Regions from separate parts of the Homo sapiens genome. Here all the other regions are reported to be linked to region 2. Evidence: microRNA targets listed by miRTarBase, many of them from high-throughput screens and not tested one by one. Region 2 holds a microRNA gene; each other region holds the end of a gene's coding sequence.

What was found. Region 2 holds the annotated microRNA hsa-miR-374b-5p (AUAUAAUACAACCUGCUAAGUG, at 2,215-2,236, opposite strand). A microRNA usually pairs through its seed, bases 2 to 8, with sites in the 3' UTR of a target mRNA and lowers its output. Matches are read on the target gene's strand: a 7mer-m8 pairs with bases 2 to 8, a 7mer-A1 pairs with bases 2 to 7 and ends in A, and an 8mer does both.
Region 1: the mRNA of STRAP is a reported target of hsa-miR-374b-5p. The part of its 3' UTR that is shown has no 7-base or 8-base seed match.
Region 3: the mRNA of NR2C2 is a reported target of hsa-miR-374b-5p. Seed matches in the 3' UTR shown: 7mer-A1 at 1,906-1,912.
Region 4: miRTarBase lists SIK3 as a target of hsa-miR-374b-5p. Seed matches in the 3' UTR shown: 7mer-m8 at 2,521-2,527, 7mer-m8 at 2,568-2,574, 7mer-m8 at 2,596-2,602 and 7mer-m8 at 2,607-2,613.
Region 5: the mRNA of GHITM is a reported target of hsa-miR-374b-5p. The part of its 3' UTR that is shown has no 7-base or 8-base seed match.

What each region holds. Positions count from the first base shown.
Region 1 is chr12:15,902,489-15,906,609 of GRCh38, forward strand. It overlaps STRAP (serine/threonine kinase receptor associated protein), which reads left to right. Exons shown (of 10, transcript NM_007178.4): 10 at 429-990. The coding sequence ends at 490. Among named protein-coding and RNA genes, the nearest start is that of DERA, 6.8 kb to the right of the region's middle.
Region 2 is chrX:74,216,373-74,220,493 of GRCh38, forward strand. MIR374B (microRNA 374b) reads right to left here and starts at 2,246; the gene lies at 2,175-2,246. The region is part of intron 5 of FTX (FTX transcript, XIST regulator); the gene reads right to left. MIR421 (microRNA 421) reads right to left here and starts at 2,089; the gene lies at 2,005-2,089. MIR374C (microRNA 374c) reads left to right here and starts at 2,177; the gene lies at 2,177-2,246.
Region 3 is chr3:15,042,774-15,046,894 of GRCh38, reverse strand. NR2C2 (nuclear receptor subfamily 2 group C member 2) reads right to left here. Exons shown (of 14, transcript NM_001291694.2): 14 at 1-4,061. The coding sequence ends at 3,887. It also overlaps a transcript of MRPS25 not described here. Among named protein-coding and RNA genes, the nearest start is that of MRPS25, 20 kb to the left of the region's middle.
Region 4 is chr11:116,843,107-116,847,227 of GRCh38, reverse strand. SIK3 (SIK family kinase 3) reads left to right here. Exons shown (of 25, transcript NM_001366686.3): 24 at 675-845; 25 at 1,599-3,826. The coding sequence ends at 832. It also overlaps APOA1-AS. Among named protein-coding and RNA genes, the nearest start is that of APOA1, 7.5 kb to the right of the region's middle.
Region 5 is chr10:84,151,725-84,155,845 of GRCh38, forward strand. GHITM (growth hormone inducible transmembrane protein) reads left to right here. Exons shown (of 9, transcript NM_014394.3): 9 at 540-1,844. The coding sequence ends at 624. Among named protein-coding and RNA genes, the nearest start is that of GHITM, 14 kb to the left of the region's middle. RefSeq lists an enhancer at 3,588-4,101.

The DNA.
Region 1 (4,121 bases), not on the chromosome of region 2:
TTTTATTGTTAAGCACCTTCTTGCTAAAACAATGTTGATGGTTAATGTTTTGCTTTAAATAGCACTAAATATTAGGATTTGAATCACTAAAAGAGAGGGCCAGATCCTTCGAAGACATGACTTTAATTCCGGGTTTGTTATATAGCTGGAGTCTTTGAAAATTTAGGCCAGAAAGGGACCCTTGGAGGTTGAGTTATGGTGTAAGAGAATCTAGTGGATAAAACACATGAACTCTTTCTTCTTTGCCTTTTCAATGACATGAGTCTAGTTGTTAGTGGCATGTGCAGTTGCTCTCTTCTTTCCCTTACCACAGTATGCTTTACAAACACTTTTTCATTCCTTCATTACACAGAAATGTAGATTTGCTTCTTTCTTTCATTAAGTTGACTAATGTGACTTTTTTTTTTTTTTTTTTTTTTTACTTATAGAAGAAATTGCTTCAGAGAATTCAGATTGCATCTTTCCTTCAGCTCCTGATGTTAAGGCCTGAGCGTCAATCATATGTGCAGTTAGTATACAACTGACTAAAACAAGCAAGCAGAGAAAAGCATCAGCCTTCCAGAGTTACTGTCTGCTTAAGGCAGAAACAGCAGTAAATAATGAGGAAAATGAATTAGCTCCAGTGCTGGAACAACTAACTAACTTGGTGTTACCTGTAAGTGAAAACTCAAGTGTCAGATGAAGGGAGGTGGAGTTATCCTCTTATAGTACAGTGGCCTGTTATCTTTTTAATGAATATATACAAGCCAACATCCAATTTCTATTATTACAATTAGGGTTCTTGTAGCTGTTTATGTTAATATGGAGAAGAAAACTATATTGGCTGATTTTTTCTGATCTTAAAGCAGAATGCCTTTTCTTTTTTTGCTTCAGTTGTAAAGAAGAGGGAATACATGATAAAGTAACTGGTTTGATTTCTCGTTCATTGTACACTGCCTCTGAACATCTAATTGTTTTTAGTTGTCTAAATAAAATGCCTCTAAAACAAAACAATGTTTGGTTTTTTTGGGGAAAAACTACTAATGTGAGTTTTATAAGTGGAAATAGCCAGAAGGTTTTTCTGTATCATAACCATAGCAAAAGGTAAGCCAATTAATCTGTAGTAAACATTATTTTATAATATTGAGATTCAGTTACTTGTCCTGAATTTTTGAAATTCTTATGTCCTTTACTAGTGTTTCATTTACCTTCTCTATTCCCAGATTGGATAGAAGTGCTTGACATGCCTTTTTAAACAATTATTTAAATAATACATGCTAGTTATAAGAAAAAAAAAATCAACTGAAATTTAGCAGTAAGCTGAAAGATCACTTAAAATCCTACCACTCCTCAAAAAACTATTAAAATCAAATGACCATGAATGCATGTTAGGGCATCTCTGTATGTATATACAGATAGATAGAATGGATTTTATAAAAATGGGATTACTATAGTCCTGCAGTGGTTTAAGAAGTATGGAATTTTACCTCATTCTTTAAATTTGGGTGGCATTCAGAAAGCCCTTCTAAAACCTTCTAATAAATTGGATCAGCTGAGTTTAGACTTGTAATTTATTTTTTAAAACAAAGAGGGCATATTAAATGAGTAATTTGGAAATACTTCAGATGAATAAATAACATCTCTGCAACTTCCTTTTTCTCCTGATCAGTCCTGTGAGTGACCCTTGATAACTTTTCTTAAAAGCAATATGAGTCAACCAAAGAATAAGATTAATTTTTGAGGATTTGTGATAACCAGAAGAAAGCACTGTAGGCTGTGACAACCTGTGAGGGCCGAGAGAAATACAGGGGAGCCAACTGGTGATCCATATTGGCTTTCATAGAGTGGTAGTATTTTTGTGTCAGCTTGTTACATGCCTGAACCTCTGGATTGCAGCAGTGTTGTCATTGTACCAGCAGTTGCTCAGACTCTAATCAGAGTCTGATTTACCCTCAATAAAGTTCTGTACGCATCAGATTGGAATCATGAAGTTGCTTGTTATTTATGAACCAAGGGAATTTCTCCTTAGGTTTCATAAAAGTCTAATGACCCTGTACAGGTACAGTCCTTTGTGTATTGGTTTCCTGCTGCTGCTGTAACAAGTGACCACAAATGTGTACCTTAAGACAACACAAATTTATTATCTTACGGTTAGGGAGGTCAGAAGTCCACAGTAGGTCTTGCTGGGCTTAAATTAAGGTGTCAGCAGAGCTGCAAGCCTTCTAGAGGCTCTACAGGACAATCTGTTCCCTTGCCTTTTCTAGCTTCTAGAAGCCAGCTGCATTCCCTGGCTCATGGTTCCTTCCTCTTTCTTTACGTCCAGCAGTGTCCGTTTTTTAATCTCTTATTCTGAATGTGACTCTATCTCCTGCTGCCTTCTTTTATTTATAAGGAGGTTTGTAATTATATCGGGCTCACCTGAATAATCCAGGATAATCTTTCCAATTCAAGATCTTCAATTTAATCACATCTGCAAAAGTCCCTTTTGCCATATAGGATGACATATTCACAGGTTCTGGGGATTGGGAAGTAGACATCTTTGTGGGGGCCATTAGTTATTAGTCTGCTTACCACACTTGGTAATGGTAGAATCCTACAGTAGAATTTAACAAAACTTTCAAGAGTAGTGGTCACTTTTCTGTTCTCATCTTAACTAAACCTTCAGCAGCATTCAATAATCATCCACTTCCTGGTTTTTGATTTTTTTTTTTAGCTTCTATGAAACTACACTCCTGGGTCTTTTTTTTTTTTTTTTTGAGATGGAGTCTCGCTCTGTCACCCAGGCTGGAGTGCAATGGTGCGATCTCAGCTTACTGCAACCTCTGCCTCCCAGGTTCAAGCGATTCTCCTGCCTCAGCCTCCTGAGTAGCTGGGACTACAGGCATACACCACCACGCCCAGCTAATTTTTGTATTTTTAGTAGAGACGGGGTTTTGCCATGTTGGCCAGGATGGTCTTGATCTCCTGACCTCGTGATCCACCCGCCTCGGCTTCCCGAAGTGCTGGGATTACAGATGTGAGCCACCGTGCCCGGCAGGGTCTTTTTATACCTTACTGACTCTTGTATTTGCCAGTTCCTCCTTTTTTTTCTTGACTTCAGATCTGGGCTGCACTTTCTAGCTCTGTTGTCTAAAGAAAAATATCTGCTGTTACTCAAGATCTTCTGATAGGTTCTACATCGTTGTTTATATGTTGTCTACCTGGTCTGCCTCTTTGAGCACCAGAGTTTGACAGCATAGTTGAGTGCTCCATCTTAACCTTTCATAAGACTCAGACTTACCTATCGTAAGTCTTGATTTTTTAAATCAAACCTGTTTCCCTCAACCTTTCCCCATTCCACTAACTGGTACTAACTTATACTTACTTGTTCAAACTAAAAGACATGTAAATCCTTGACTGTGTTCTCTCTCATGCCCATGTCTATATGCAAGTCCTGTGGGCTCTTCGAAGCTGTGCTTTGCCTCCTCTCCATTGTTACCACCCTAGGCAGGCTACCTTTATTTCTCAGTTCCTTCATAACTGCTCCCTCTTGCCCCTACTCATTCGTCTGGCTCTTATCCCATCCATACTCCATACAGTAGGAAAGGTAATTGCTTTAGGATTTGAAGAGATGAGGTGATTTCCTTGTTAAGATCTGTAATGGCTTCCCATTATATGAAATTCTTATGATTAGTTGGCTCTTGATACCTTTTGTGACTTTTTCATATTTCCCTTGCTTGCCCTGCTCTAGCCACAGTGGCCTCATTTCTGTCTCAAGTCCTTTTCACTTGATATTTCTGCTACTTGGTTCACTCTTACCTAATGTTTTGCTTGGCTGGATCCTTTCTTTGCATTCAGTTCTCCAGCTGGTCTGTATTCCATCTCTTGTCACTTCTTACTGAGTCCTATTTTATTCATACTTGTTAACGCTATTTGAAATTTTGTTGCATGTTTTTCAGCTTCATTGATAGTCTCCCTTTACCTGGAAAGGTGACTGGTATGTTGTGAGTGCTCAATAGTTGTTGAAACAAGTCCCTCACCAAATCTTTTTAATCTCTCCCAGTAATCCATGTCAGACCAGGAAGACTGTTTTCCAGTTATCTCATATGTAGCAGGCCATCCTCCACTGAAGAGTGAGACATGGCAGGCATGGCAGACATGGC
Region 2 (4,121 bases):
AATCACCTGGATCCCCCCACTCTTCTAAGGCTCATCTACTATCCCACTACAGCCTTTCTTCTCTAGTATTTGCAGTTAACATGTGCCAACCTCCAAGTCATTCCTCACAGTCACTGAAGCCTTTTGTACCTGGCCCAGTGTTCATTCTAAGCCTAGCTTCTACTATAATCCTGGGTTACTATAATAGTCATGTAAATGATCATCTGACATCCTAGCTTCACAGGTATCTTAACCACTCCAGTTTTGAAATCTAACACTCCAAAGTCTACTCTGATTACAGGTCCTATCACTCCAGTTTTCCAATTACTCAGCACTCACCTTGTTCACATTAAAGCCTCTTTTTGGCCCAGACTGAGGCCACTCCTGACCTTACTTCCTTCCATGTCCAGGTTGGATTTTTTTTTTTAAATGAAGTCTCACTCTGTTACCCAGGCTGGAGTACAGTGGGTGGGATCTCGGCTCACTGCAACCTCCGCCTCCTGGGTTCAAGTGATTCTCCTGCCTCAGCCTCCTGAGTAGCTGGGATTACAGGCATGTGCCACCACACCTGGCTAATTTTTGCATTTTTAGTAGAGACAGGGTTTCACCATGTTGGTCAGGCTGGTCTCGAACTCCTGACCTCAGGTGACCTGCCCACCTTGGCCTTCCAAAGTGCTGTGATTACAGGTGTGGGCCACCGCGCCCGGCCTTAGTTTGGATTCTTAAATCCATTTCTGTGTAACTCGTCTCTTGCTAGCTGTCCACCCCTCAATCAATCAAGGCAACCAAATACTGCTAGTGACAATGCCCCAAAACCACTTCATATTTTCCTGAGCTTCTAACCCAGTTTCAAACTCATTTCTTACTTTGATATACCATAAGCTCTCCTGTTAATGGTCTCACTCCAGCGTTTTGGCCTGAATATTCCTTAGGGACTCTGGTTCATATTTAGCCCTCTAGTATTTCTGTTCCAGCAGCTTTTGTCTTCATATTCCTGTTCCTGGTCAGCTTCCTCCCCATCATCCACCTCTACAATTACAAATCTTCACCACCCTTGCCAAGTCCTCTTCCTTACTCCTATCCCTATCTCTGTGCTCCAGCAAAGAGGTAGTTCCACTTACCTAAGGCTAACCCTCCACCTGCATGTGTTCTAGAGCCATAAATTTCACCCTTCCAGCTTCACCTGCATCATCTTTCAAGATCATCTTCCATCTATTATCATCTCTCTCTTTCTCACATCTACAATGACTCCCTTCTCAATTCCTTCTGCCCCATGGTCTGCAAACACACTCAATTTTTTTCTCATGTTAAATGATTCACTGTAAGGCGCTGGATAAGTGGTTTTAACTTGTATTCTGGTTGTCACATCTACAATCAGAAAAGCTTCTCACAAAATAATGATTAAGTACAATAAATAAGATAAAGAAAATATGAACCTGGTGAGAGGTGAACAGGACGGTGGAGGATTACCTGTCAGTGCAGGTAAGGGGATAGCTGGAGTAAAGTTGAAAGGGGAAAACTTTAAATATCAGCCACAGGAGCAAACCTCAGACTGTGAGGATGAGGTTTCTGTTCAGACAATGAGCACTCTGGTCCAACCCAGGGAGCAATTAGCAGCAATTACAGTAGCAGCAACAGCCATGCAACATCAGCAAGTAGCTAAGACCAAAATGCAGGCATAGAAATGAAGTATTTCATAGAAAACAGAGTAGCAAATATGACATATGAGGCACTTGTGCTGCTACTCCCCCTTCTCCGACCCTCAGCAGACATCACTAAATAGTTATAAATGTCTTTCACACTGAGATAAGACCTGGTTTCAGAATCTTGTTATAAAACATAATCAGGGCAGGCATTATCAATCAATTGGAGATGGTACTTGAGATGAAGTGTATTTGCTATCATTGCACTACACAGAAAAGTCCTCAACAAAAGAATTAGAAGACAGGAATAAGCTTCAGGAGTAAGCATTCTGAAGAGAGCTTGGACGTTGTTGGCAACTGGCGGGGACAAGCTGAGCCCATGGAGATCACAGAGCAGGCGCCCAATTAATGTCTGTTGATGATTCATTTTTTCATTCAACAAACATTTAATGAGGCCTACAATGTGCACCGGATTAGGCACTGTGAATACAAAGATGAGTAAGGCACTGTCCTTGCCCTTAAGGAATTTAAAGTCTGGTAGACGAGAGCCATAGACACGGACAATGATAATACAACCTGCTAAGTGCTAGGACACTTAGCAGGTTGTATTATATCCATCCGAGTAGGATTTCTTCAGAGGAGCACCACTCCAGGTTGCTGCTGGATCCATGAAGTCCTCCCAGGCACCAGGGTCTGCTGTTGTTTTTGTCACGTGCTGGGTGTCCCAAGATCTAACAATAATAGCTGTAATTAATGTATAGAGTGCCTATGACAAACACTTTACAAATATCTTCATGGAAACTCTGAAAATTAATAGTTATATTAGAGGAAGAAACTGAAGTTCAACAAGTTTAAGTCACACAGCCAGCAAGCAGTTGAATTAGGTTTCAAATCCAGTTTTGACAAAGTCTAATGCATTTTTCTGTTTTCAGGATAACCTTTATGCAGGTGTAATACAACAACTTTTCAACAGCTTTCTATTTGGAACTAAAAGCAAAGGCAATAGATTAGTCACTAGATCATGGAGTGATTAATTTGGTTTCCCACTCTACCTGGCAGAGAAATAAAAGGTGAAATGACCTCACACTTACATACCATTGAAAACCTTCAAGTCAGTTACTGTTTTTCTTTCTCAACCCTAACATCGTCACTGATCATTCAAAATATAAGTACCTCTAGTCAAATCTCTTCTTTTAATACTTGTCATAGTCAACACCATTATCAGCAACAACAGTTGACACAGCATTTAGCTGTATATTCCAGGCCTGTTCTAAGCAATTTACATAATTAGTCCCTTTAAGTACTTTTTACCCCCATCATTGAAAATAAATATTATTCCTATTTTACATAAGAGAAAACAGAGTCCTGGGGAAGTGAAGAATCATGCTCAAGACCACATTGCTAAGTGTGAGAGCAGATTTGAGCCCAGGCTACCTGGTCCCAAGACCCAAACTCTCACTTTACATAGCTCTGCTGCACTGCTCAGGGCCTCCTTTCCCAACTCTTGATGGCAAGTTACACAAGGCCCCCTGAAAAACCCAGTCCTACTTACATAAAATCTCATCACTAACCATTCTGGTCATAGAAAGCCATTCTCTAAATCCCAAATATCAATACTCAGAGCCTTAATTGGAAAATTTCCCGAAGAACATTGAGTTTAGAATATACCTTTGCAAAAAGAGAAAATAAACACTCGATATGTTTAGGTTTTTAATTATTGAATTTTTTTTTTACTTGCAGATATAGTCATAAACGTTTTAAGATCCATAAGCAAACTAAAGCAATTATGCCAATAATGACTAAGGCCACTGCTTCCTCAATTGAGTCTTTGATATAAAAGCCTTCACTTTTGGTTAATTACAAAAAAAAAAAAAAAAAAAAAAAAAAAAACCGTGGGAGATATGTGACAGTGAGAGTAGGCCTGCTACTGATGAGAAGGACCAGCAACTTAGCAACACCATAAAATGTCTGCTGCAATTCAGGTGTCTAGGTGTCTCCCTGAGAATCAACATTTCATATACAGCTGTTCCCAGAAAACAATCTTGCACAATCTGTACAGTCAAGTTATGATCTAAAAGGAGTTAATTGCAACATTCATCCAAAGAATATGACAGTATTTTTCATCAAGGTCTTTTTCTATAAGTTTTTCTATAACTTTTCCTATAAGTTCTATTATGTCTATACAGTCATGTGCTGCCTAACAATGTTTAGGACAATGATGAACCTCATATATGACAGTTGTCCCACAGTTGTCCCACCACAAAATCATATCATATTTTTACTGTAGCTTTTCTATGTTTATATATGTTTAGGTACACAAATACTTACCATTCTGTTATAATTGCCTACAGTATTCAGTACAGTCATATGCTGTACAGGTTTGTAGCCTAGGTGTGTAATAGGCTATACCATTTAGAGAGGTTTGTGTTAATATACTCTATGAAGTTCACATGACAAAATCGCCTAACAATACACTTCTCAGAACATATCCCCATTGCT
Region 3 (4,121 bases), not on the chromosome of region 2:
GCTTTAAAAATTTACATCAAAGTTAAGACATTTTCAAAGAGCCTCATAACTGAGAGAATGGAAGCTGGATAAAGGAAGCACGTGGGGCATCTGCTCTGCTGGCTCAGGCATTCCCAGGGCCCAGTGGGCACCGCCTTCCCTGGGAGAAAAGTGGCTGTCAGATGATGAGACTTCCTATGACCTGGACTAAGAAAAGAGTTAAAATGTTACCTATGACCCCATTGCACATAAAGTCATTTACACTGGAAAGTGGGCAACAAGCTTCTGGACTCCAATGAGATCAGGTCCCAGAACATGGATGTACACATGTGGCATGAACTGCTGATTGCGGCCAGGGGCTGGAAGCCCTGCAGAGGGCGGGCTGTGAGCAAGAGTGCTCTGCAGGAAATGTCCTCAAAGGACTATGAAAGTAAAAGCACTAGAAACAGCTAGAGTCCTTAGAATTTTTTGCTCCTTGCCGTAACTATCCCCCAAACAAGTAAGACAGCTAATAAGTATGTGTGTAGCGTGGATATTGCCTTGAGATTAAGGAGCCTAACGCATCCACTGTTAACACCATGGCTGGTGTCCTAACTGCCTCAGAAGAGTCCACATTCAATACTGACAATGACAAGCTAAAAATCAGTCCCTCTTGAGGGCAATTACACATCTTAGAAGTGACTACACCTGAAATTAAATATAAAGCCCAGAACAGCAAAAGAACCTCAAACCACAGCCTTATGGCAAGGGTTAGACAATAAATGTAACTCCTCAGGACACAGAAATGTCAAATTAGGAGAGTATGGTAGGTAACACACTTCCTTAAAAACACCTTCCAGGAGTAACTTGAAAAGTATTACTTGCTCAACTAATTTGGTCTTTCAAAAAATCTCTTCCTGTCCTGTTTTATGCTAATGTGTAATGATCTCCACCATTTTCAACATCTATCTGTCTTAACCCAACATTATCTGAGATACTTCTGGAAAAGAGCTCACTTAACTGATGACAGCATGTGTCTGTCCCACCTCTCTGAGCCAGCTGCCTCTCCTCATTGAGGGAGGAGCAGCCAGGCCAGTAGAAGAGGGAGCATGAACGTGGCTCCATGGAGTTCAGTAGCCAGAGGACAGGTCTCACTTCATGAAACCCAAAGTTTCACAAACTGCTAATAAGGGCTATAAGCCCTGTGAAAGTTGGAGCCCAAATATTTGGTTTGCATCTCTTTAAGTAATTCTTGACTTTGGGCTGACTTTACTTAACCAACCTGACAGGAGATGAAATGGACCTGCAGTCAGAGGCTTGAAATGAGTTAAAGCAGCAAGAATACAGGTTACGTGGACATGATCCTTAAAGAAAAGGCCACTTCAAAGTAAGGCCAAGAGGATCTCAGAAACCAACCAAGAGGTGTTCAAAGCCCAAAACAGTCCCTGGAATCAGCCATCACCAGCAAGGGGACTTAAAGAGCAGGACCAGGTTAGAATCAGCACCTTTCCAAGCAAAATCACGTTTTCTGCAAGGTTGTTTCACCACAGCCCAACACTTCCTTATCCAGCCTGAGTCTAAGCAGCCTACTGGCTGCCACTGAATGACCTGGGAATGAGAGGAGGGGCTGGTGGAGACCTTTTCACCAACACCAAGAACTGGGATCTGAAAGCTGTTATGCTTGTATTCCCAGGGAACTGCAACATGGCCCTCATGGTCACTCTCAAGGATCAAAACGACGGAAGGCAGGCAACAATCTGTGTTAGAGGCACCACTGAGCTGCAGGATGCCTGCTACTAAAAGCCTTCACAAGCAGAAATGAAACAAACCTGCCCTAATTCCATTGTCTCAGCTGGTTTTTTGTCTTAATTTTGAAACTGAAAACACATCAGGGTTAGAAAAGTAAAAATTACTTTAAGCTGGCAAAATTAAATCCTTTCCATCATTTTATAATGGCCACTCCCACTACTCTCCAAAATTTGCTGCCAAGGCAAGAATTATAAAATGATATAATTAAATCCAAACAAGAATTTAGAAGTTGGAAACACTGTTCCCACTTACCCTACTAACACTGACTTGCGTAAAGTGCTGCTAACCCTTCAGGATCAAGCATCCTGTTCTGCCTTGAGCCTGCAGCAGCTTCCATTCTGTCCAATGTGGCACCACAGGGGCGTCTGTAGCTGGCCAGACTGCACCCCTGTGGAGCACATGTGGCGCCAGCCTGAGCCAGATCAGAGCACCTGTGAGTCAGGGGAGTGTCCAGGGATCTTTTTGGATATCATCTGATTAACAAATCAAGAGAGGCAAATTTAACCCAACAGGGTGTATTTTCTTAATCTGGACTATTTAAAAAGCAAAAGACAAAGCAATTGACCGGGTCTTCCACATGCCACTGTTCTCAAACAGGAAAAGCTTGCTATATATTCACATCCGTGGGAATTTACGGGTGTTTGAAGTTAGACATAACTTCCTTTTAAGCGCATACTGTTCTTGCTGTAAACTCTGGTTGCTACAATTTATGAGGAGAAAGACTATCACCCTGGAAATTGAGGGTTGTTTTTAAGGAGCAAGCAGCCTGCATTTAAAATGCTCCGGGGTGGTCGGCTGGCACACACCTGGGGGAACCAAAGTGCACAGTGTGCTGGTAACATTAACAGACTTGCCAACAGAGATGCTGAGTCTATACACATTTTTAAAATCTCTGGTATTTAAGGTCAACAGGAAGAAATTGTCCTGAAACCTTCCATCCAGCTTTACCAGGCCCTAACCACTCTCGCCAGGCGGCAGCAGGCTCCTGCCCAGCCCCAATCCAGCCTCACAGTTATGATGGAGCTGCAGAAACACGAGCCCTTTTCAAGGGGGCATTTGGAGTGGAAAGCCCTGGGAAGGTAACGCTCACACTCCAAGGCCACACTCCTCCATCTGGACAAACACACAAGCACCCCCAATTGTATTGGAAGTACTGTCAAGAGCTCAAAATGCCCACCTTGCACTTTTTGGTCACAAGGCTCCATCTGCCACGAGCGGCGGATGTGACTTGGGGATGTTTTCACTTGCTGGAGGAACTGTACATCTCATTTGGCAGTTAATGTCTGACTAGTTGCAATCCAATTCAGATAACCAGTCATCAAAGGAGAACCCCAGGTTCTAGAGGAGTCTGCAGATGCCCATCAGAGACCAGGACCAAGTAGTCAGGGAACCTGACAAGTGTCTGCTCTATGGCTAGAAGCTTCTGAACTGGGTCACCACCGACTGTGCTACCACACTCCCACTTACTGCATGATGCAAATGAGCCACGTTTCCATTCACAGAATTCAGCTCAACTCCACAACATGTGCACACAATTAGGAATGATGCCTTCTTTTCTTAAACATAAATGATTGTCTCCTGTACCCTAGTGAGTTTTCACAGAAATCATTAGCATTTCGGCAAAAGACATACACAGTTTTCCATTTGCCCTGCCCACAGGCAAGATGTTGCTAACGTTACACATTGATAAGTGCTTAGAAAGTGCTAATATTATTACCCTGGTAATTAGTATCTATAATTCCAAGGACTTTTTTATATATATATATACACACATACTATTCTCTCAGGTTCTTTCAGTTTTCTTTAATACTAGTCTCTGACATTATAAAACCTTTTTTTTTGTTTTTTGCCCTTTGAGAATTTCTAAATACAAATTGAGTTAAAAGATTGTTCCAAAATCTGCTGCTTCATCAAAAGGCATTAAAACATTTCTTATGTCAGGAAAGGATCCTACTAGTCTTTTAATTGCTATTGTCTGGGATTAACAGATAAGGAGAAACCAGACAGGAAATGGCTAACATATGGAAATATTTGCACATACCAAAATACCACTACTTTTCTTTGTATGTGAACGGTCCTGGAAGGATTCTGTTGCTCCTTGGCAGGTGTGTGGTTTGCGCTATAGACTGGCTCCGGTGATCTGGCCATTATACTCTGCTGTCTCCATCTTGAGGATGTAGGGGATTATGCTGTCTATCGAAACATTGCCAATGAGACCAGTAAAAAAAAGTTCTTCTGTTATGTTGGAGCTCATCAGCCTGAGTGCCGGCAGGCGAACGAGGATCCGGGCCAATCTATAAAAGGGAGTGTCATTAGAAAAGGAGACTGTTTGATGCCCTTCAACCACAGCTCAG
Region 4 (4,121 bases), not on the chromosome of region 2:
CTTCAATCACTTTTTCCAGTTCTGCTTAGAGGGCATCAGGTCCTAATGGCACATTTCTACCTCTTCTTGGAGCCAGTCAAGGGAGGGTGTCATAACAAATAATAGGCGTAGGCCTTGGGCGGGGCAGGTCTGCCACCAGTCCCAAGGCTGTCCTTTTCAGGCTCTGCAGGTGAGGCACTTGGCTTTCTGGACCCCGAGATCCTCATCTGTAAAGTGGCAAAAACGATAGAGCCTTTATCCTACATTGTGCCCTGAGGGCTGGCTGGCTTAGTGAGTATCAAGTGCTTAGCACAGTGTCTGGAAGACAGACAGTGCCCAGGAATGGGTGCCTGCAGGCAGTAAAATTATTCTCCCTTTCACTCTTTAAGAGGTGATCCTTTCTGAAGGAGTCCTCTATCTTCTCTCACACTACAGTAGTTGATCTTACCTAAGGATGGGAAAGGGTAAAGGAAAAGGGAAAAAAGCAGAACAGGTAGAGGAGAATATAGGAAGAATCTTGGCCCCCGCCCATCGTCACTCAACACCTTGAGGGCCTGCTGTGAGCTAGAATTCAGGGCTGGGAGTCAGGCTGTGGGATGCTCGACAGGTTGCCTTCAATTCCTCCTCTCTCTCCCCCTTGCTCTCCTAGTCCCCCAGTTCCCTGCCAACCTCATACGTTCTTTTTGGTCTTGCAGAATGTGGGGCAAGCCTGGGAGGTCATGAGCACCCAGACCTGAGTGATGGCAGCCAGCATTTAAACTCCTCTTGCTATCCATCTACGTGTATTACAGACATTCTGCTCAGCTACAAGCACCCCGAAGTCTCCTTCAGCATGGAGCAGGCAGGCGTGTAACAAGAAACAGAGAGTGAGTGTCACCCTGGCCAGAGCCAAACCAGCCCTGTGGCCCAGTGCCTGCTCCCAATCCCATCAGGAGCTTCAGCCCATGTGTTGTGGTGGCCAGTGCAGTCGACAGTACCACGCCTCCCCTCGTGGCCTTCACAGTTTCTTGCTTTTCATTAACGACGCTGCTAGTTTTAGGGCGCGAGGTAGGGGTGGGGGTGTGCAGAAGAAATGCTAAACACAGTCTCTTGGTTCGGTTATGGGAATAAGACACAAGACTCGCCGTGTGTTACAGGTGCTCTAGCCTTCATAGCGACAGAAGTGAGCTACGGCTCCAGAGGATGCAGGTGACCTCCGGTCAGCATAATGAGGAAAGGAGGAAGTCCTTAAACTCAGTCCTAAAAGACAAAACCTGGCAGGAAAATATGTCCAGCCATATTTTTTAAGGCCATACAGAAGCAAGTGGCAGGATATTCCAGATTAGGGAAATGTGTGATGAGAGGCCCATGGTAGAAAGAATGGGGAAATTGGCTTGTTTGGCTGGAGTAATGCAAAGAGTACACAGCAGGCACCATTGGTTGTATCTGGAAAATCCTTGACAGAAGAGGCCTGATGAAAGGGAAGCCACTTGGCAAATCCACATCAGAGCCTCAGTATGGCAAGCTACCTGAACACCTGAGGGAAAGTAAACCCGTTGCATTTTTTAAAAGGTTTTAAATGGAATATTTGAGCCTTTCTCTTTTCAAACTAATTCTCCTCTGTGTCTGCTTTATTCCAGGTTTTGTGTACAGCTTGGGAATGAAAAGGTTGATTGTAAACCCACAGTATCTAGCAGCGTTGTGCCAAATTGCCCTTGTGTTTCTCTCCACCCAAAATATCACAGCTGCTTTCCTCACATTTGGTTCATCCGTGTGCTGTTCTTTTGGGTTCTGAGAGGGTTTTGCCATGTTTGCTTGTATGACCAAGTCACCAAGGAAATAAACAGGAAGGAAATCCATGTTCTCCATCTTTTGTGAAAGTATATTTGAGTTGGTGGTTTTTTGTTTTGTTTGGGGGTTTGTGTTTTGTTTTGTTTTTGGTATGTTTTCTTCCAGAGGTGATATACTTTCTTTTTTTTCTTCCTTTCTTTTTTTTCTTTCGTTCCTTTTTTGAAACAGGAGAGCAAAGCAGTTAGAGTTCAGAGGCCAGCGGCCTCAGGGCCACTCCCTCCCTAGCCTTCATCAGCAGAGCACCCTCCATCCCCCTGCATTGCTCTTCTGTGAAAGCAAATACTAAAGGATGCCATCCTCTGGAATCCTAATGGCAGGCAAAGGGAGAGAGGAAGGGTGACGGCTTCTGGCACTTAGAAAACAAAAAGAACAAAAAAAGAGAAACCCCCAAGCCTGGAACGCAGAGAGGTCTTTACTGCTGGGATCCACGGAAAACATGTCTGTCCTAGCCAAGATCATATGAAGAGTTTGGCACGGAGGCTGAGAATGACCTGGCATAGATGGTTTGCCAGTTAGGATGTCTCAATTTGAGCCTTTGCTTTTGGTGGATAACTCAGCTCCCCTCTTGTAACCTGGAAAGTTGGTTGCCTTTATCATCCTGCTGGTTTTATCCATGGACTGAACACCCAACAGCAGTGCACTATGCTTTCTATGGCATCTTTCATTCTCATTTTATATTGTGCTATAAAAAGGATTGTTTCTCCATATATATATTATATATGTGTGTATATATATAATATAATATATGTGTATATATATATTATATATATAATATATAATATAATATATTATATATATATTATATATATAATATATATATAAAATATATATATATATGCTCTCCTCTTTCAGCCTCTTTGTCACAGGGAAGAAGTGTAGGAGGTTGCCTTGGGCCCTGCCTCTCTCCTAACCTCCTCTTCCCCACTGGGTACCCTCAGCCCCTATATTTTAATTCTTGATCATGTAGAAATTGTTTTTGGTAAATGTTGATATTATTGTTATTATCATTATTAATAAATAAAGAGAAAAGGAATTTTTGTTTAAATGAGAAATGTTTAACCAGATTCTGTTCTATTTGAATTGTGACTTGCACCTTTTGTTCAAAGTATTTCCTTTAGGCATTGTAATTGTGAACAGCTCTTACTTGTGCCAGTGACAGATGCAGTGGTCTCCTTTCCCCAGTTGAAGCAGTGCATACGCAGTAGCTATTATTTGTGTTATCTTTATTTCTCTTCATTGTTAGAAACCAAAGTCTTCTCTGCTGGCTGGGGCTGAGAGAGGGTCTGGGTTATCTCCTTCTGATCTTCAAAACAAGAGAGAGACCTTGAATACACTGACTCTTCCACCCTTTTTTTTTCTGGGAAAGGAGAGCAAGAGGTCCCGAGTCCCCTCCTAGTCTTTCATCCTGAATTTGCACAGAGGAAAGCGGGTGCCCGGCATGGCCATCCTGATGTTGCTGGCGGGATCCCCATGCACCTTGTCCTTCTCCACTGATACTGGCAGCTCGGCTCCTGGACCCAAGATCCCTTGAGTGGAATTCTGCAGTGCAAGAGCCCTTCGTGGGAGCTGTCCCATGTTTCCATGGTCCCCAGTCTCCCCTCCACTTGGTGGGGTCACCAACTACTCACCAGAAGGGGGCTTACCAAGAAAGCCCTAAAAAGCTGTTGACTTATCTGCGCTTGTTCCAACTCTTATGCCCCCAACCTGCCCTACCACCACCACGCGCTCAGCCTGATGTGTTTACATGGTACTGTATGTATGGGAGAGCAGACTGCACCCTCCAGCAACAACAGATGAAAGCCAGTGAGCCTACTAACCGTGCCATCTTGCAAACTACACTTTAAAAAAAACTCATTGCTTTGTATTGTAGTAACCAATATGTGCAGTATACGTTGAATGTATATGAACATACTTTCCTATTTCTGTTCTTTGAAAATGTCAGAAATATTTTTTTCTTTCTCATTTTATGTTGAACTAAAAAGGATTAAAAAAAAAATCTCCAGACTCAAGTTGCTAAGACCTTTTGTCCTGCCTTTTGTCCTTCCTTTTGTGAGGCACTTACTTACAACTTGGTTACTTAGTTGGACAGCAGGAAGTTGTGTAGATAGGAGCCTGATTGTGTTCTTAGGCTGATAGATTATTTGCCTGTGGTTTGGAGTCTAGTTGGAAGAAGCCTCAGGTAGGTGGGAGCTGGAGCAGTGGAGGCTGGAGAGGTCTCCCAGGCTAAGGGTGGGGCTTTGAGTGACTTAAGAAACTCGCATTCTCTAGAAGCCTGAACTCTGCTTCACACTGTGTCCCTGGGCACCCAGCTC
Region 5 (4,121 bases), not on the chromosome of region 2:
TATTTTATTTAAACAATTTTCTTGAGTTTCATTGTGTCTGTCACATTTTTTTAAAGTAATTTGATTTTATCTAAAAATAAAACTTAATGTAATGGTTTAGGGGGAAGAAAAAGTTGCTGTACTGTAAAGCTTACAGATTTGTAGAAGTTTTCTTTAGAGGGGTGAAGTGGGTCTTTTATATTAAAAAATGCTAGACTTGTGTCTAACAGGTTTTTATAAAGGTGTTTCTTTGGTCTTGTTTTGATTATTTCATTGTCTGCCACCTAGTTTTCTTTGCAAGTTGATATATGCAGAGTGTCAGAGAATAAAATAATGATTTTTTTAAACTGCTCTTTAACATTTAAAAGATGAGTCTGCCAAAAGGAAGACCTTAACTATTTTCTAGTCTAGTACTTCATTAGTTGGCAGTTAAACATCTTATTTTTAATTTCCATTTTATATCACTAAGACAAATAGTATTTTTCTTCTTTTCTATATTAAGAATTCAACATCACTATTAGAATTGCATCATATATAATGGGCATAATTTTCTTTTCTAGGATGCTGAGTATCTACATGGATACATTAAATATATTTATGCGAGTTGCAACTATGCTGGCAACTGGAGGCAACAGAAAGAAATGAAGTGACTCAGCTTCTGGCTTCTCTGCTACATCAAATATCTTGTTTAATGGGGCAGATATGCATTAAATAGTTTGTACAAGCAGCTTTCGTTGAAGTTTAGAAGATAAGAAACATGTCATCATATTTAAATGTTCCGGTAATGTGATGCCTCAGGTCTGCCTTTTTTTCTGGAGAATAAATGCAGTAATCCTCTCCCAAATAAGCACACACATTTTCAATTCTCATGTTTGAGTGATTTTAAAATGTTTTGGTGAATGTGAAAACTAAAGTTTGTGTCATGAGAATGTAAGTCTTTTTTCTACTTTAAAATTTAGTAGGTTCACTGAGTAACTAAAATTTAGCAAACCTGTGTTTGCATATTTTTTTGGAGTGCAGAATATTGTAATTAATGTCATAAGTGATTTGGAGCTTTGGTAAAGGGACCAGAGAGAAGGAGTCACCTGCAGTCTTTTGTTTTTTTAAATACTTAGAACTTAGCACTTGTGTTATTGATTAGTGAGGAGCCAGTAAGAAACATCTGGGTATTTGGAAACAAGTGGTCATTGTTACATTCATCTGCTGAACTTAACAAAACTGTTCATCCTGAAACAGGCACAGGTGATGCATTCTCCTGCTGTTGCTTCTCAGTGCTCTCTTTCCAATATAGATGTGGTCATGTTTGACTTGTACAGAATGTTAATCATACAGAGAATCCTTGATGGAATTATATATGTGTGTTTTACTTTTGAATGTTACAAAAGGAAATAACTTTAAAACTATTCTCAAGAGAAAATATTCAAAGCATGAAATATGTTGCTTTTTCCAGAATACAAACAGTATACTCATGATTGCTAAGTGTTTTTTTATTTTTGCATATTTATTGAACTGTCTAATTGAATACAGCTTGCTCTTGTCACCTCTTCAAGCTTTCAAGCCTTTATAGAAAAGCTTCTTTGTGGCTTACACTGGAAATTATGAAAGCAGTTTTTCTCCTAAGACTTTTGGTTTCTCGCATTGCCTCTCAGACTAAGCACTAAAAAGCAAAGCAAAACAGAACTAGTTCTGTCTTAATGAAATATATCAACCCAAAAGTGTAATGAGGAAAATGCTTCATTAGTTTCCCCTAGCAGACTTTTACTTCTCTTACACTGCTACACCATTACTTTCTTGAGACATTTGTAAGTTCTTTGATACAGAAGAGTTATATTTAGAAGTCTTTAATGAAGGGAAAGAAGTCTGTATGATGACTGAGGTGATTGCTCTTTTTGACAAATGTTTATTACAGTAATGCAGAAATACTGTTAATCATCTCAAAGTACATAGGAGGCTTATTTCTGAAACAAAGGTTTCAGCCAGATGTTGATTAGTCTAATTTTTCCAAGTGAATCATATGCATGCCATTTGAATAGGGATTTCTTCAAGAAAGCAACTTAGTTTCTTGCCAGTATAGTATAGTGCAGTGTGATAAGTACATGATACTTGTAGCTAGACTACCTCTATTTGAATCTCAACTCTTATTTCTTATGTGACCTTGGGCAAATTACTTAACCTCTGTGTGCCCAGTTTCCTCTCCTGTAAAATGAATATATTGGAACCTGTCTTATAGGTTTATGGTTAAACGTGCAGGCACTTAGTAAGCATTACATAAGTCTTAGCTATTGATGCTTTTTTTTATTAGTAAAAATGTAAATGCCAATTTTCTATTTTTCTTCTCCCCATCCTGATACCCATATCAGTGTGATCTTAAAGTGCCTGTTTTCCTTAGTCACCTTTTAGAACCCAAAGTTTATGTCTTTTTTAAATTAATATCACACACAAAATGATATCATTTCAGTGATGGTATCAGGCAGTTTATCTAGAAAACCAAGGATTTTTTTACTGTTTTACTTTTTTTTTAAATAGAGGGGTTCAGTTTGGTCTTAAATTGGATTCAAACAATCCACTCACCTTGGCCTTCCTAAGTGTCGGCATTACTAGCTTGAGCCACTGCCCCCATCCTGGGTTGTTTTGTTGTTGTTGTTGTCGTTGTTGTTAATTTAATGACATTATGTTATTGGACTTCTTCTGACTTTGCTAAGACAATGAAGGCTATGCAAAATAATATATAAAATGTGGCCGGGTGCGGTGGCTCACGCCTGTAATCCCAGCACTTTGGGAGGCCGAGGCAGGCAGATCATGAGGTCAAGAGATGGAGACCATCCTGGCCAACATGGTGAAACCCTGTCTCTACTAAAAATACAAAAATTAGCTGGGCATGGTGGTGTGCATCTGTAGTCCCAGGTACTTGAGAGGCTGAGGCGGGAGAATCGCTTGAGACAAGGAGGCGGAGGTTGCTGTGAGCCAAGATCGCGCCACTGCACTCCAGCCTGGCAACAGAGCAAGACTCCGTCTCAAAAAGATAAATAAATAAATAACATATAAAAGGTAAGCTGATATATAAAATGTGATCGTTTGTAAAACATACCAGTTGTAAATGGTAATAGAAAAAAATCACTAGTTTCTTGGCTCTTAACATACCACAGAGTTTTTGTTTTTTTTTTTCCTCATTCACAGCGAAGAGTAATGACCTGCAAAGTGATAGGCTTTAGGTAAAAAAGTAAATGTCCATTTTTCATTTTCTGACATCGTCTGAAATACTAGAGGATAAATGAAACATGTTTTAAAATAATCCCGAGAAAAAAGGCCCTTTGAGTTGTTGCTTAAAATGGCATCTACTGAACAGTCAGAAAACATGAATTTTTTATGTAACAGGTGCCATGCTAGCTGGGCCCAGGGGAGACAATGATGAATAAAAGTAATTGCCTTCTAAAGCATATCAAATCCGTGTAAACACGGCCATAGGCCATTGGATGAGTGTCACAGAAAGGTAAGCAAAATGGAAATGCAGACTGAATAATAAGTTTCTAAGATGGCCCAGGAGGAAATTTTCAAGAGTAAGCATAGTAGGTAAAGCACACAGAAAAAGGTAGTATGGGCATTTCATACAATGGATGCTTGATGGGGGAGGGCTGCAGGGAGAGATGGACAAAGTGGAAAAAGATGGTAAGAAATGGAAATTCTCTTGAAGCTGGATTTCCCACTTGCTGCGGGTGTGTGCTTTGCTTAACATGTTAAAACCTGCAGGCGTGGTGGCTCATGCCTGTAATCCCAACACTTCGGGAGGCTGAGGCAGGAGGATTGCTTGAGCCCAGGAGTTCAAGACCACTCTGCACAACAAAAAAACCCATCTCTACCAAAAATTTAAAAATCAGCAGGGTGCAGTGGCGCATGCCTGTAGTCCCAGCTACTCAGGAGGATTGCTTAAGTCTAGCATTTCGAAGCTGCGATTGTGCCACTGCACTCCTGCTGGGCAAAAAAAAAAAAAAAAAACTAGGAAGACAGGCAGGCATGTTTACCTTGAAATTGTATCTGGGTAACGTGTCCAGGTTAAAGGTACTAAAACTGAGTGATACCCAAGACATATAATTCCAGTGGGGTAGGGTGGCCCAGCTACACTAGTAATAGCTGATGTTTGAATT